Regions from separate parts of the Homo sapiens genome. Here region 1 is linked to region 2. The links come from fine-mapping of genetic effects on gene expression. Tissue or cell type: lung. Region 2 holds a variant in brackets; the other region holds the start of a gene. All regions are shown on one strand. Distances are from middle to middle.

Region 1 (8,186 bases), 34 kb after region 2:
TGAGAATGGGTTTATTATATTAGCAAATTTGGCCCTCTATTGCTCTCTCTCAAATATGCTCTCTTGCCCTTCCACCCTTCTGCCATGGGATGATGCAGCAAGAAAGCCCTTGCCAGATGCCAGCCCCTCAGTATTGGACTTCCCAGCCTCCAGACCTGTGAGAAACAAATTTCTATTGTTTATAAATTAGCCAGTCTCTGGTATTCTGTTATAGCAGCACAAAATGAACTACAGCAGAAATCAAGTACAGTATTATATAGCTGAGAGGTTGACAAAACACAGCACATAGGCTGTTTTTCTATGGCCTGTGAGTTAAGAATGGCGTGGTAGGCAGAATAATGGCCCCCTAAAGATGTCTACATCCTAATCCTTTGAATATGTGAGTTTATATGGCAAAGGGGAAGTAAATTTGCAGATAGCATTCAGGTTGCTCATCAGCTGACCTTAACATGGGGAAATTATCCTGGATTATTTAAATTGGCCCATTGTAATCATGGGGCCCTTAAAAATGCAAGAGGGAGACAGCAGAAGCAGGGTCAGAGCAACATTTTGTTGCTGACATTGAAGGTGAAGAGGCCAATAGTGAAGGAATGTGGGCTGCCTCTGGAAACCGGAAAAGGCACGGGAACAGATTCTCCCCTAGAGCCTCAGAAGAGAATACAGCCCTGCTAACCTGTGACAGACATTACCGTAACTTACAGAACTGTAAGATACCGCAGCAACAGAGACTACATGTGCTAGCACTGCCTAAAATATTTACGATTTGGCCCTTTGCAGAAAAACTTTGCCAACTCCTGGTCTTATGACGTTTATCCCACAAGATTAGATTCTTTGGCCTGTTTTTACTCAGGAACCTCAGTTCTCATATGACTAGCAGTCCAGGGGAGGACAGAGAATATCATCACCATGGCAACTTTTCCCCTAAAGCTAGTCCTGCTTCTACTCAAAAAGATGATCATGACTACCTTTATTCTAGGTCTTTAAAAAATTGTGGCTAGAAGGCAGCATCCATTTGCCATTCTGCCAGAGGATCTTTATTGACCCCCAAATAAAAACGCTGAAGAGCGTCACTGACTCAACAATAAACGGGCATGGTAACTAAAAGATAGCCACAGACTCTTAACACATTTCCCATCAAGGAGCAGGGTCTAGTCTCCCGCCCTTGAATCTGAGAGGGCTCTGTACTTGCCCAACAGCATATGACAGAAATTATGATACACCAACTTGCAAGCCCAGTCCTTAATGGACTGGTGGCTTCAATGTCCTGTCTTTTGGAACATGTGCTCTTAGAACCCAGCTTCCATGCTGTAAGGAAGCTCAAGCAGCCCCATGGAGAGGCCTACAAGAAGAGGAGCTGAGGTTCCTAACCAAGCTCCCAGGCAAAAGCTAGTAACAACTTCAGTCATGTGAGCCATCTTCAAGAACCCTCCAGCCCCAGTTAGCCGCCTCAGCTGTGACCAGCCTCAGCTGTGACCATACGCGGCAAAAACAAGCTTTCTTCACTGAGCCCTTCCCAAATTGCAGATTTGTAAGCCAAATCAACAATTACTGTTTTAAGCCATTAAGCTCTTTATTTATTACATGGTAACCGATAACCTTGTATAACTTTGCATAACCTTGTCTCACAGTATAGCTAAAGATTCTGCCAGCAGGTTAACTGACCATAGTAAAATGTTACAACAGAGACATCTAGACACCTGCTGTCCTAAGATGTCATCATGGAATTTCCATGGTCTATAGTGAAGCTGGAGCGGACCTCTCCCTGCATATCTGAAATGATTTAGGGATAAGAAGGTAAAATTGGAAGGCTCTATGTTCAGTAAAGTAGCATATAAAAAACGCAAAATGGGAGGATTGATGGCCAGGAGACAGCAAACCAGATTTCTGATCCTAGTTCAGTGACAGATTCAAGAAGGGGCCCTTACATGAACTGAATCAATTTTGTCTTCATTTTGCCCTTCAGTTTTTCCTCTCTACGATTACACAGCTAAAAGCTGGATTCCTAGCACAGTAACTGGTCCAGAGAGGGCTGTTTATAAAAATTAAGCTCTGTACTTGTACAGTTCATGGAAAAGAGAAAAGTCAGGCAGTGAACCTTTTATACTCTATACATTAAAAACATAAAATGTAGCTATATAGGCAATTCCCAAACTTCATGCTGAGTGGTTTTTGAGGTCCCACGATTTCTAATTATCAAGTGATGGTTATAAAATGCCAAAAACAAAATAAAAGTGAGTCTGCTTTATATTTGAACCAAATGTATAAACAATCATACTTCAGTGTCTGAGTGAGTTTTGCCCAGTGGCACATGTGGTATTTTTAGGAGAAACTCAACACTGACTTAGCAGTGAACTGATCTAGATTAACCATGCTCCTTAGCAAAAGATCATGCTGCACTGAGTACCTGGAAGGGCAACATATTTGCTTTCAAAATTTACTTCATCAACAAATTTCTCCTTTACTTATATGACGACACCTTCTGAACAAAAACTATTCTTCTTCTCGTGTTCTTACAGCGACTGAAACTTGAACAAGACTGGCAAAATACTGCAACACTCAAACCTAGCTCTATCCTTCTCCAGAGCCCTAGACCATCCTCTCAGACTTCTGCATTAAACACTGCAGAGTGGAATTCTTTAGCCAAAGTCCACCTGCCACTCATTCACAATGTTTCTTCGCTTATATTATCATCGGAGCCATAACTGGAATTTGCCACCTGGAAGAAGTCACGTAAGATTCACATATCCTAAAAAGCTGACTTGCCAAAATATAGCATCTTCCCCATCAGTATTAACATAACTCCTCCTTAAGAAATTTTTGCCTAACCCCAAGTCAAGATTTTCTGCTAGAAATTTTATAGTTCTAGATTTTACAATTAGGTCTATGATCCACTTCAAAGTTAATTTTTACAAATGGTGAAAAGTATGGATGGAAGTTCATATTTTTTGGCATATGGGTGTCCAACTGTTCCAACACCATTTCTAGAAAATGTTGGTAAAATTGAACCTTTGCCAAAGATATAAAAATTATCAGTAACTGTGGACAGTTAACGGTACTAGACATTGGAGGAAGAAGGGGGAAAAATGAGACCAATTTGAAATGAGTCAAGGAGCTGTGTGGACTCAGGCAGATAGACAAAGGAGCCCCCCAGGTCAGCTTCCGAGGATGGCCACCACCTGAGGCTCTCCTGGACTTGAGAAATGGGTGAAAGTTACAGTCGAATCACGGCGTTGTTGCTGGACACAGCAGAGTCCTAGAACAAGAAGGAAGCTGAAAGTCCATCATCTTTAAAGCAGCAAGAGTAGTGGGAGCAGAGGGGAGCCCAGCACGTGCGTCCTGGGGTTCTCACAGTCTTTCAAACCTTGGCACAACTGCACCCTCTGGATAACGCAGTGGTCTGCGCCCTGGCTGCTCAGGAGAAGCCAGGGAAGCTTGTAAAATCGCTGATCCTCCGCCCGTTGGATCAAACCCTTGGGGGCAGGTCGGGGGAAGCAGCGTTCGGACCGTCCCCAGGTAAACCCAGCGTGCAACCAGAGTTGGGGACGGGGGGAAACCTTTAGTCGCACGCACTGGTCTGAGGTTCAGCTTTGTAGGGACGCGGAAACTGGGACCAGCCAACCCAGGACGTCTCTCCACCGCGCGCTGACCCGATGCGGTTCCCGCCCGCTGCGCCCACTCTCTCCCCGACGGTCTGTGACCGCCCAGACGTCTCCCTTCCGGGCTGGGGACGCCAGGCCGGGCGGCACCGCTGGGAGGCCGGGAGCGGCTCGGGACCGCCGGGTCGCCGCGGTCCCAGGACCGGAGGCCCTGCAACCGGGGGCACAGCCGAGGCGCGCATCGGGACGCGCGGCGCCCCGCCTCGGTTTCTTCGCAGGCGCGGGCGCGGGGGCGCGGAGGCCGCGTTGCCACCGTCCCGCCCCGGAAGGGGGAGCGCGGCGTCCGCGGAGGTGGCCCGGGCAGGCGCCGGCCCCCAACCCGGCCCCGCAGCCGCGTGCCCAGCGCTCTCCCTAGCCCGGCCGCCGGCGCGGCCCCCACCTGGTCTCCTGGTTGCTGAACTTCTTCGTGACCACCTTGCCCAGCTCCAGGCCCAGGCGGTCGGCCACGCGCTGGGACAGGTCCTGATGCGAGCTGCCGCTGAACAGCACGATGTTGGGCATGGTGGGGCGCGGAACTCCGAGGGGCGCGCGGCGGCGGAGGAGGTGGCGGAGGCAACAGCGACAGCGACGCGGGAGGCTGCTGCTGCGGGAGCGGGAAAGCGCGGCGGCTAGATGTAGGGAAGGGGAGGAGCGGAGGGGGAGGAGCCGGAGGAGGAGCTAGAGGGGGCAGAGAGGGAGGAAGAGCGGGCGTGGAGGGGGAGCTGGAAAGTGCCGGGGGGCGGGGGCACAGCCCTGGCAGCAGTTTTGGACGCCCTGGGTGGTCCTGAAGCCCGAAGGTGTCCTTGCTCCGCGAGAGAGCTCCGAGCTTCATTCTTGATCTTCCAGACCTGCCTCGCGGGGAGAGCCAATGAACCGCGGTTAGCTGGGCACAGAGGGAGAGTTCGGGCCGGGGGGATCCCTCGAGGTGCTTCGCAGCCCGGAGCGACTTCCCACCCCGGAACACCGCAAACCCAGTGTGGGCGACTGGTGTTCAGCTATAGCAAGGGTCTGCAAACTACAGCCTATGGGCCAGATCGCGAGAGCTCCCTGTGTTTGTACCAGAGAGCTAAGCATGGTTTTCATACATGAACATTTGCACTTTATGTGATGATAGCAGACACCGCCTTTGAACTCCAATTAAGAGAAATATCCCCCCCGCAAAAGAATTCCTTTTCTCTCATTAATAGATGTGAGTTGCAAATAATTGTACTCAAATATTACCGTATTTTGGATTATATCAATAAAAACATTGTGACAATTTTTTCTCTCTTGTTATGTAAGTTCCTACGTAATATCTTCCCTTTTCTTGCTTGGTCTGCAAAATGTAAATATTGGCCATGTGGTCCCTCATAGTTCAAACTTGATGACCCCTGAACTACAGAGTTGCCCCTGCACCATGTGTCCTTAAAAAATCCAACCACTATGTGAGTCCTCATCACAGGCTGAGGGGAAGTATTGCTCTTGGTGGCTCACTGGATCAAACCAAGTCCCCCAGATTCACCATTTTTCGGTAGATGTGATGGTCCTTGGGGCACTTCACAACCTTCTGCCTGTTGGGTGCTCAAGGGCCTGATCCCAGGAACACAGATCTCCCTAGACAATCCAGCTCAGTCCCTCCACATCCCTGGAGTCAGGGCCTCCTTCCTCTCTTTCCTGCTAGAAACCAGCAAAAAGGTTTTCTCAAGATGCCAATGCAGTACCAGAGCCAACTTCAGGGCACAAACCAAGTGTAGGAGAAAGGAAAGCAGTCCCTGTCTATAGAGGGCTGGTTGGTGATGCTGGTCACAGTTTCACACTCCTCAACAAAGGCTGATTCAACCGGGTAGATAAATGGCTTGGTTTTACTAATGTTTGCCACGAATTGGCTCTCCATCAACAGCAAAGCCCACTTGCAATTGGGTTGTAGCCTACTCTAATCAGACTTCATAATGGGATTTGGGAGATTACAGGGATGATTCGCATCATTGGGATTTTTCATCTGGGTCCTTGTACTTTGCAAGGAGATTACTTGGCACATCGAGTGTTTCTTGTAAACTTTTGTATCTGCCAGCCTATCAAAAAGTTATTCAAACTGACAATTTTAGCAGCATTTCTGGCCCTTTTTCATTCCGCCTAGAGATGCATATGTGCCCTATTATGTGAGAAAACAAACAAAAACCCCTATCTGCAATGGTTTATTATCTATGTATTTCACAGCTAATTACCATAGCAATGAGATTTATACTTGACCCACTATGTTTAAAATTTTTATTGAGTCTGCTAATGTAGTTATATTTAAACTCTTCTAATAAAATTTACTATCAGCAAATTACTATAATTTTTATATTCTTAATATTTCTCTCATAGATAAAATTGACTAATAATGGTTTCTTCTAAATATATAGATGCTCTTCTCAAAGGGAAAGTGGCATCCTCTTAGCATGATGGGGCTGTGGTTCTTTGGTAACACAGAACCAAAGCTGATGGACTATAAAACAGTAAAAGTTAAAGCCCCTGGTCTTTGGGTGGGTAAATGGCTGCAGATTTGGAAGCTCGGATTGAATTGTGACAAACCATGGACTTGATAGCACCAAGGAGAAACAATATCTCAGTTGGGGCAACTAATACAATGATTGTTGGTTCAATAGTTTGATGAGTTACTCTGCTTAAATGCTAAATGTAAACAAGGTGAAATGTGCCATTGGGGTTGATGAGAATACTAATGGGAATCATTGAAAAATCATCATGAGTCACAGACTGTTCAGAAAGCTGTCACTTGTAAATGAGCAGCTACAGATAATTTTATTTAAGTGTGAAAACTTTCTCTCCCAAATGCCTTTATCCTTGATCCATAGGAGCCAGGTTGTGGGAAACATTGGTCTAGAGCAGGTTTCTGAACCTCAGCACAGCTGATATTTAGGCTGGGTAATTCTTTGTTGTGGGACTGTCCTGTGCATTGCAGATTGTTTAGCAGCCTCCCTTGCCTCTACCCACTAGATGCCAGTAGCACCTATCCACCACTGTGACAACCAAAAGTGTCCCCAGACATTGCCAAATGTCCTACAAGGAGCAAAATCACCACAGGTTGAGAATCACTAGTTTGAAAGAACCCCTGGCCCTTCTCTCCTCCATGTGGGCCTTTCTTCATGGTTGTTTGGGCTTCCTTACGGCATGGCTGCAAGGTTCCAAGGAGTGTTCCAAGAAGATAAGTCTCAATGAGCAAGTGCTTATCAAACCTCTGTTTTTAACTTGCTTGCTAATGTCTCATTGACCAAAGCAAGTTACATGGCCAAGACCAGCTGTCAACATGGTATGGGACAACTGGAGGGCATGAGTACTGTCCACCAACTGTCTACCACAGTGCACTTCTTGAACAACATTTGAAGTTGGGGAGCCTCTGGAAAAATGGAACACTTGTTCAAAGACCCAAGACTTAGAAGAGAAAAAGAACATATACTCTGTGCATATGTGATCTGGGTCTCAGACCGTTTATAAAATATACATTATCTTAAGATAAAATGTTAGTGGAAAAAATTAAAATGATGAGATATTTTCTATTGTTGATTTCTATCTTCATTGACTCATGGATAGAGATTAACGGTAAAACAATGATTTGAATTTATGAACAGTTTCACGTCTTCTATTTCCCACATCATCTAGCCAAGTTCTTTGTATATAGTAAGAAGTCTAAGTATTTGCTGAGTGAATTTATCCCTGACTATTTTAGGGCTGAGAAACGGAAGAAATTTCCCCAAGTCACATGGCTAGTTGAAAGCAGCAAAGGAATTAGAATGTGGATCTTCTAGTCCAGTCCTTTTCTCTCTAGAATGGTACCATCCAAAAGAAATGTAATGATTGTTTCCTATATGTTTCTATGAAAAAATTTTAAACTTTTTAAAAAGAAATATAATGCAAGCCACATATGTAATTTACACTTTAGTAGCTGTATTTTAAAAGAATATAAAAAACAAGTGAAGGTAATTTTAATAATACACTTTAATCCAATATCCAAAATATTATCATTCCAACATGTAATCAACATAAAACATATTAATGAGCTACTTTGCATCTTTTTGTGTCAAGCCTTCAAAATCCAATATAGATTTTACGCTTACAGCACATCTTAATTTGGACTTGCCATATCTGAAGTGCTCATCAGCCACATGTGGCTGATAGTTGCTGTATTAGAACAAGAAGTTCTAGAACACTAGTTCCTAAGAGCAATGCCAAGACACTCTGACATAACCTTTTTCTTGTATGTTTTTATTAGGGGTGTGGCAAATAATTTATAACTTATTATGAAATGCTAACATTTATAAGCAATGTACTTTAAAAATAAGTTAAAATAGATTCAACTTTAATTCTCTATTAATAACATTTTCACTCAGAATCAAGTAATTTTTCTGATTTTTATTTCTAGAACTTTACCTTTTACTTCTGTTGTTTAAAGAAAAATCCAAAAACCGAGATGAAAATAGAGTGAACACCGATATACCCACCACCTAGATTTTGTAGCTGTCAAAATTTTCCCATGTTTGCTTTATCTGTTTTTATCTAAAGTATTTTAAAGTA
Region 2 (8,186 bases):
AAACAAACAAAAAACGACCTGTGTCAACTCTGAAGGCTAGATTTACATAAGCCTTATTCATGTATTTTATTTATCTCATACTTATATGACAGCCGCATCCTAACACTATGGTATACTAATAGGTGCTTCATAAGGGATTGCTGAGTGTATGAATGAATGAATGAATGAATGAATGAATGAAACAAGACCAACTCCTTCATTTTGCCTGTGGAAGGACTAAAAATATGAATTTTCCGTTTGACATATGTCTAAGCCAAGATGTTCACATGAGTCAAAATACAGAGAAGCAAGTGGTATTTCTCCGATGTATTAAAGTTCCTAATTTATGTACATGTAATAAAACCTCTCCAAAACGCAAGGGTTGAAAGTGTGTTTATGGCTGTACCAATGCACATCAGTGGAGGATTATTGATTCTTCCAAAATAACTCTCGCGCCAACTGGTTTTCCCCAGAGTGCTTTTTAATTCATAGGACTTTTTCTGTGAATTTTGTATTGTTAAAAAAAAAAGTTATTCATCACATTCATTGAAGACACTAAGGAAGACTTCATTCAAGGGGGTCTTTGTGATAGGTTTAGGGACCACAGACTGCAATGGGGTCTTATAGTGGGGGAGAGAGATTAATCTCAGCTCTGACTCCAACAAGGACAAGTGGGGATTTGTAAGCAACGAGCAGGGTTGGGGGCCGTGGATGGAAAACCACTAAGGAAACATCAGGGGTAGGAGGGATTCTTGCTAGATCAACTCAAATAGAATTCTTGCTAAAGGCAAGCCTGGGTGATAAGATATCGAGGGTGGTCAGATACCAAGGGCAGGAGTTTTTTTGATAAACTGACTTCACAGGATTCTTGCTCAAACTAAATTCCACAATGACAGAGAGGGAAGCCCAAGACAGGTCTGGTCAAGGAGAGGATTCAGAGGAGCCTGACTGTTGTTAGGACAAGGAATGAGTCTTGGTCGGTGTTCAAGAAAGAATTGCTCTTTGAATGCTATGAATGCATCCAGGTGCAGAAATTAATGCGAGGTCAGATCACCATTGCTGTGGAGAGGGATCTCTGCCTATCTTTCTTTTGATTCTTCTGTTCCATAGCCTTGGTCCTAAATACAAGGTTTTCTGAGACTTAAAGGAATTTAGGGTTGCACCAGGCATGGTGGTGCACACCTGTAGTTCCAGCTACTTGGAGGCTGAGGCAGGAGGATTGCTTGATACTATGAGTTCAAGACCAGCCTGAGCAATATAGTGAGACCTTCTGTCTCAAAAAAAACAGGAAAGAGAGAGACAAAGAAAGAGAGAGAGAGAGGAAGGAAGGAAGGAAGGAAGGAAGGAAGGAAGGAAGGAAAGGAAGAAAAAGAAAAGAAATTTAGGGTCGCTCCTTGGTTCCTTGGGTGAGTAAATGTCAATGGCACATACTGAGCTTATCCTATGGTAAATGTACATCAAAATATGCCCAGAAATAATCATTAGGATGATTTTAAAGAGTGACGTGTTCAGTTTTAGTTCTTAAAATATGTCCATAATTCATGGTCAGTCTTAGCTTCCATGCAAGAAAATACTAGATTTAGCACTCCTTGTGTAGGGAAAATCAGAGCATCATACGTCCTCAGACACAGATGGCCATGCCCTCACAAATGTTAAGAATCTCTCAATGTGCGGAAGGACAACGTACATCAGGTAACCTTCAGAGCACTCTGCCTTCTGCCTGGACTGTTCCCTGGGGTCTCTGAAGACCACTTATGGTGTTAAAGGTAGCTGTGCCAAAGGACTGGCAATCAAGCCAGGCTTGAAGGTGTTTTCTAAAGGTGCCCCTGCTTTTTCTCTCTGATTTTGTGACTACAGCTCTTGAGCTTCTATAGTTAGTTGAACAGATTTTAAAAGACCTGTGATACCACAGGTGCCCTGCACATTGTTGGGCTCATCATATAGCCTGCTTGTTTTTGCAACCAGCACAAGATCAAAGCCATGCTCGTGGGATTCCTTACCAAGGTAGTGCCGGGGATGCAGAACTATCCACCTTAGAAGAGGGAACGGGAGACCAAACGTCCTGGTTTGCCCAGGACTGAGGGGTTTCCTAAGATATAGGTCTTTCAGGGCTAAATCGAGAAAAGTCCCACGCAAACCAAGACAAGTTGGTCACCCTATTGAGAGCAACCATCTGTGCCTTCAGTTAGAACTATTCCAACTACATCTAGCATAAATGGCATTGCCTATTAAAACTGCTGGGGACTTCTGCAATCATCTTTCCTCTAATTTTTGCAGAAAGATGCTCATACCCAGAGTGGTGTACACATTTTTCCCAAGGTCACCCAGCTTGCTAGCAGCATATCAGGAACCAGAATCTAGATCGCCACACTTCCAATTTAGGGCATTTTCCACTGCATTATGTTTTTCACTTTCCTATTCTCTTTTTTTATCACTCTCTTAAAATGTAAAATTCATTCAGCCAGGTTTTCTTTTGGCCACAGAACTCGGCTGTTAGGATAGTGAAGACTGTTCTTCCCATTTATATTGGGCACCACTTTTGGTTGTATTTATGATGGGATGGATGGTGAATGAGGGCTACAATGAAATCAGGTTGTTGTAAATGACCTCAATTGATTACCATCTCTATAATCACATGACATTCATTCCTACCTGTTGTTTCTACAGCCCACTGGAAGTATTGTTGTTGTTTTTAAGAGACGGGGTTTCTCTATGTTGCCCAGGCCAGTCTCAAATTCCTGGGCTCAAGCAATCCTACTGCCTCAGCCTTCTGTGTAGCTGGGATTACAAGAATGCACCACGGCACTCAGCTGAAAGTTGTTGCTGTTGTTGTTGTTTGAGACAGTCTTGCTCTGTTGCCCAGGCTGGAGTGCAGTGGTGTGATCATGGCTCACTGCAACCTCTGCCTCCCAGGTTCAAGTGATTCTCATGCCTCAGCCTCCAAGTGGCTGGGATTACAGGCATGCGCCACCATGCCTGACTAATTTTTGTATTTTTTAGTAGAGATGGGGTTTCACTATGTTGGCCAGGCTGGTCTCAAACTCCTGATCTCAGGTGATGCACCTGCCTTGGCCTCCTAAAATGCTGAGATACCAAAAGCATTGCTTTTATTTATAGAGTCCTAATCAATTCAGTAGTAGGAGGAGTGGGAGAGGCTCCTTTTTCAATCCAGGGACCTCCATAATGTTGTTTTTTTTGTTACCAAACACACAGGTAAGTGGCATCATGGATTTGGTAAACTAACAACAATGTGAGTGCATCAATCTCTGCTTCTGTAAGAATCCCGACTTTAGGATTTTCAACTGTCACTACTCCAACTTCTATTTCTGAAGGTTTGAAATCAATTGATAGAACAGTAGACAGGCATGTAATTGCAGTTTCCACTGTCTGTTCAAATGTCCAATCAAATTTCTTTTGCACTTTTTTTTTTTTTTTTTTTTCTGAGACGGAGTCTCGCTCTGTCGCCCAGGCTGGAGTGCAGTGGCGCGATCTCGGCTCACTGCAGGCTCCGCCCCCCGGGCTCACGCCATTCTCCTGCCTCAGCCTCCAGAGTAGTTGGGACTACAGGCGCCCGCCACCTCGCCCGGCTAATTTTTTGTACTTTTAGTAGAGACTGGGTTTCACCGTGTTAGCCAGGATGGTCTCGATCTCCTGACCTGGTGATCCACCCGCCTCGGCCTCCCAAAGTGCTGGGATTACAGGCGTGAGCCACCGCACCCGGCCCACTTTTTTTTTTCAAGGAAGCTGGTTAACTCAGTTTGTTTAACTCCTGCTGCAGTGGCTTTAAATCACAGCAGTAACCTGCAGGATCATACTTTCACACCTGAGGGCCTTGTTCTTCATCTATACCAATGAAAATCATACAACCAAGAGACCTCATTGTAGCATTCTGAGTAGTATCAGCAATTCCACACAGAATGTCCACAGGAATCTCATAGCCGTACTTGTATTTCCAGTTAGCTGCCCCATAGCGTGCCCTCTGTACCTCTGTCATTCCGGTCATCACAGTGACAGCCAATGTTTTCAGTTATTTTGAGTAAGTGAGTCACTGTGCTGGAATCCGATAATTTGTCAAGCATTTCTTCTGTATGATAATTACAGCAGTCTTTTCCTCTGACAAATACTGATGGAAGGCCACCCAGGTTAATAGCCTTAAAAGCATATGCATATTCTACTTGGTAGTGCTGGCCCTCGGGCGAAAAAAATGTTAATGTGGTGGGCAAAACCAGCGCTGGAACCACGGGACATGCTGGTAGAACCACTACTTTCAGCATAATCAAGTTTTTTTTTTTTTTTTTTTTTTAACATGCAACTATTTGTCACCTAAATGCTACCCTTCACTGAGGCAGTCACATGCCAAGACAATGTAGCCCTTCTAAAATGGCAGGAGGGCAGTCTGTTCCCCTCTAGGATGAACACCTAGAAAATGCATGAAAATCTTGCCTCTTCATACCTTACATTCTTTCTAGGGGAGTTTCAGGAGGCTCACTCTAAAAACTGAAGTTAATGTACAAACCAAGCAATTCTAAACACTTTACACATAACGTCTCATTTATTATCCCCATCTCACATGTAAGGAAACTGAGGCATAGGGGTTAAGCAACCAGCCCAAGGTCGTTGTTGCTGTTGGTTTTTAAACTCCGGTAAGTGGTGAAGTCTGTGTTCCTGGGCATTATGCTTTCAGAATAGGAAACAGAGCTCAAAGACTGCAATAAAGGAAACCACCCAGGATGTGATCTTGGAAAGCAGGGGCAGAAAAAAGGTGGAGGGATGTGTTCCTGGGGCACAGGGAGATAAATCAGGAAGATAAATATTGGTAATGAGAAGGAGGAGCCCTGTTGATTTCACGCAATTTAGATACAGGATAGCTGAGTATGTTTCAGCCCCTAACTCCCATCTTCCCTGGCACATCCTTGCTCAAACACATCATGTACCAAAC[G/A]CCCTCTGCTGTCCTGCGTCAGTCCACACTGGAACACACCATAGGGTTCTGGAAAATTCCGACGTGAACCGTCTAATGGTGATCACCGAGCCCTTCCTGGTATCCCCAGCGTGATTCCAACCTCTGCACGCCTTAGTACTCCATCTTTCCCTTCACTACTTCCCTGTCCCCTGTAGTTCAGCTAGGGGATTAGATAGGACATGCCATAGGAAATGAAACGTCTCTGAAGAGGTGTGGCAGCATTATTAAGTGCAATTGTAAAGCTGATGAAGTGTCTTTGGCTTTCACTTCTCCTTCACTTCCCTCCTTTCTAGTACATTCTATCATGTTCTCTCACACTGTGATCACCTTTTTTCTCAGATGGACCTGGATGTAATTCTTCATATTTCACTGTGACTTCAAGACACCATGTTGCCATTCTTAGTGTTACACATACTTTACAGCTGAGCTTCACCAGGGGAACGTAATTATGACTTGACTTTGCGCTCACGAGAGTAGTTTGAAGTATCACTGAACAGGCTGTTCTATGGGGACAGGAATCCTCCTCGGTGCTTCTGAAATCAATGAATATGAACAAGTTTTATGCAGCCTACATTTAAGTTTGGTTTGCTCCAATAGATGGATATTGAACATCACTACTCTGATGCGTGAACACACTGTACCATCTTTAATTTTATAGGAAACATGTGGAATTAACAACGTGGACACCTTATGTGGCACAGCTGTTACGCTTTGAGGAAAGGCGATTGCTGGTAAGTTCTTCAGGAAGAAACACCTTCAAAATGGAAAACAGCTGACATCAATTAACTTCTGGCTTTTCTGTAATTTTGTATGCTGGCCTATAATCGTAAAGTAGCAAACATTTTCAGGTACTGCAACACATCACTCCGTCAAAACATATTACTCCACAATGATACATACAAACTATGAACGCAGTCAGAATGATTTTATTGAAATGTTTTAGTACAGTGTTAGAGGATCTTAAAATCTTACATTTTAAACCAATACAAGCACTGCAAATGATATACTCCTGAATCTAGTTGATGTAGTATCTAAAAAGAAAAGTGATCATATGAGTATCTATAAGTTGACTAATGTAATTTAAGTTGGAGGCTAAACAAACAACTTTGGTATATTCATATTTCTCTGGCTCCTGTTTTTGGCCAGATAAATGCCAGGTCCACCCCCATTCAGTAGAATTGGACAGGACCAATGTATTTGGTGGTCTCACTTAAGTTTCCACGCCAGGAGCAGCAAGAAATGTACAAATTTTGGGATTAAGCTGCTCCCAAGACAGTCTTCATCACCTTTGTGAACTGGAAACACCAAATAGTCAAGGTCTGAATTTCCATTGTGTGTGGCTAAGTCCAGTCGCATTGGTTCATAAATGTATTCTGAAGGATTTTAAAATACAAAGGTGGGGCTAAATAATGATAGAAACCATCAGTTCTTAATTCAGAGAATGACAATGCAGGTTCCTATATCCTTTTTAAAAATCTGAGATCATTATTTTAAAACTAGCTCTATACATTCTTAGGCTTTAAATTTAATCTTAGCTGAAATGATTACCTTTAAGTCAGTTGGCTTTAGGCCTTGGCGATTGCTCAATATAATTTTGGAATTTTAGGATGCAGCATTTCAGGTAAGTGACAGTTATGTTTTAGAAGAGGTCATTTAAAAAATGATCCAGAAATACACTGCTCTGATATGTCTAATGTATACCCCCCAAAATGTGTCAGTGTCCATATTAAGCTAAATAAAATTTGGTCCAAATTAAGCACAGTAACCAAGATGGTTTATCTGAAACTGAGTTATCCAAAAAAAAAAAAAAAAGGAAAATTCAAAATCCATGGTATTATAATTATAAATTTTCCAAGGTTCACTCCAAAGTAAAAGGATAATTAATTCTATACAGGGTTTTACCCAAATGTCCATAGGCATTATCAGTATATATTTACACAGAAGGCTTTAATCTGAAGTCACCTTTGGCAACCTCGAAATATATAAACTATGACTTCCACAATGAAATTATATACTTGAAAGTTGTCGCCTCAAAGTACTGAAAGAACAAAGGAAGAGATCACCTGTACCTGTTAAAAGTCAAAATGACAAAAACGTTTCTCATTTAAGACAGTTCACTTAAAGACCAAATAACCACCACCATTTCCCCAAAAACTGGAAAGAAATGATCTTGAGCTTTAGAAGGGGAAACAATAAATCTTAGCATATACAAAGATCTGATGCTTTTGCCAGTGATTAACCTATCATTGCTGAATACCTACAGCTAAAAATCCAGAAAACAAAAACAAGTCAGAAGTCAGAGTAGGCTTGCTGGACACTTCCCATTCTGGATTTATAGCGGGACATGGCTGAACAGGTAGGACACGGATTCCCCATTGTGTGTCCTTCGGATTGCTTCGGCCAAGATCATGGAAATGTCAATGACCTAAATGCCAATGAGAAAAACAAAGGGAGAAGGGAAGCAGGACATCTTAGTTAGAGTTCTTTAAACATTGAAAAGCTGGAAAGCTGAGAAACAATTTCTGCAGCATACATGATGTGTTGCTATCAAAACTTCCGACACTTTTGAGAGGACAGACAGCTTTGGGGTATGTCTTCAAATTACAACCCGTTGAACCAGACCCATATGGGATCCTGGAAGGGAGATTTTCAATGCAGAGACAGAAGGCTTTTCAGGGATACTGTTAACCAGAGACATCCTTTTCCAGGGGCATTTGTTGTTTTAAATTAAGTTTAATCATTATACGGAAGGTTTTTCTTTCTGTTTCTGAAAAGGCGGTGACTGCGTCATTTAAGAGCACAACTGTGATCATCTAACTCAGGGGTCAGCAAACTATAGAGGACCAAATAGTTAACATATTTGACCTTGGAAGCCAGAGGGTCTCTGTCACAAATACTCAACTTGCCCATTGTAGCGTGAAAGCAGCCACGGGCAATACATATATGAATGGACGTGGCTGTGCTCTGATAAAAATTTGCAGAAACAGATGACAGGCTGGATTTCACTTGCGAGCCATAGTGTGCCAACTCCCATCCTAAACTACTGCTAATCAGGCATGAAAATATATGACATCGCTATCCTGACCATTTCCAGACTTACTGCTTTGTGTCAAGCAAATTGCTTTTCTCTCTGAGGAATCAGAAATCATGAAGCAGATCACTGTGATGCACCTTCATGCTACGCTGATGGGAGCCGAGGCTTTGGAGCAATGAAATGACTTGCCAAGGTTCACAGCGACATAGAGGC

Evidence for each region. PIP is the estimated chance that this variant, and not a neighbour inherited with it, causes the effect.
Region 1: it holds the start of PRPS2, and the variant in region 2 is fine-mapped to the expression of PRPS2 in lung (TOPMed, PIP 0.99).

Annotation. Positions count from the first base shown.
Region 1 is chrX:12,787,469-12,795,654 of GRCh38, reverse strand. PRPS2 (phosphoribosyl pyrophosphate synthetase 2) reads right to left here and starts at 4,243. Exons shown (of 7, transcript NM_002765.5): 1 at 4,036-4,243. The coding sequence starts at 4,157. RefSeq lists a silencer at 3,538-3,987.
Region 2 is chrX:12,821,882-12,830,067 of GRCh38, reverse strand. PRPS2 (phosphoribosyl pyrophosphate synthetase 2) reads right to left here. Exons shown (of 7, transcript NM_002765.5): 7 at 5,846-7,364. The coding sequence ends at 7,272. It also overlaps the pseudogene PSMA6P2. Among named protein-coding and RNA genes, the nearest start is that of PRPS2, 35 kb to the right of the region's middle. The variant G/A (reference allele first, on the strand shown) is at 4,919.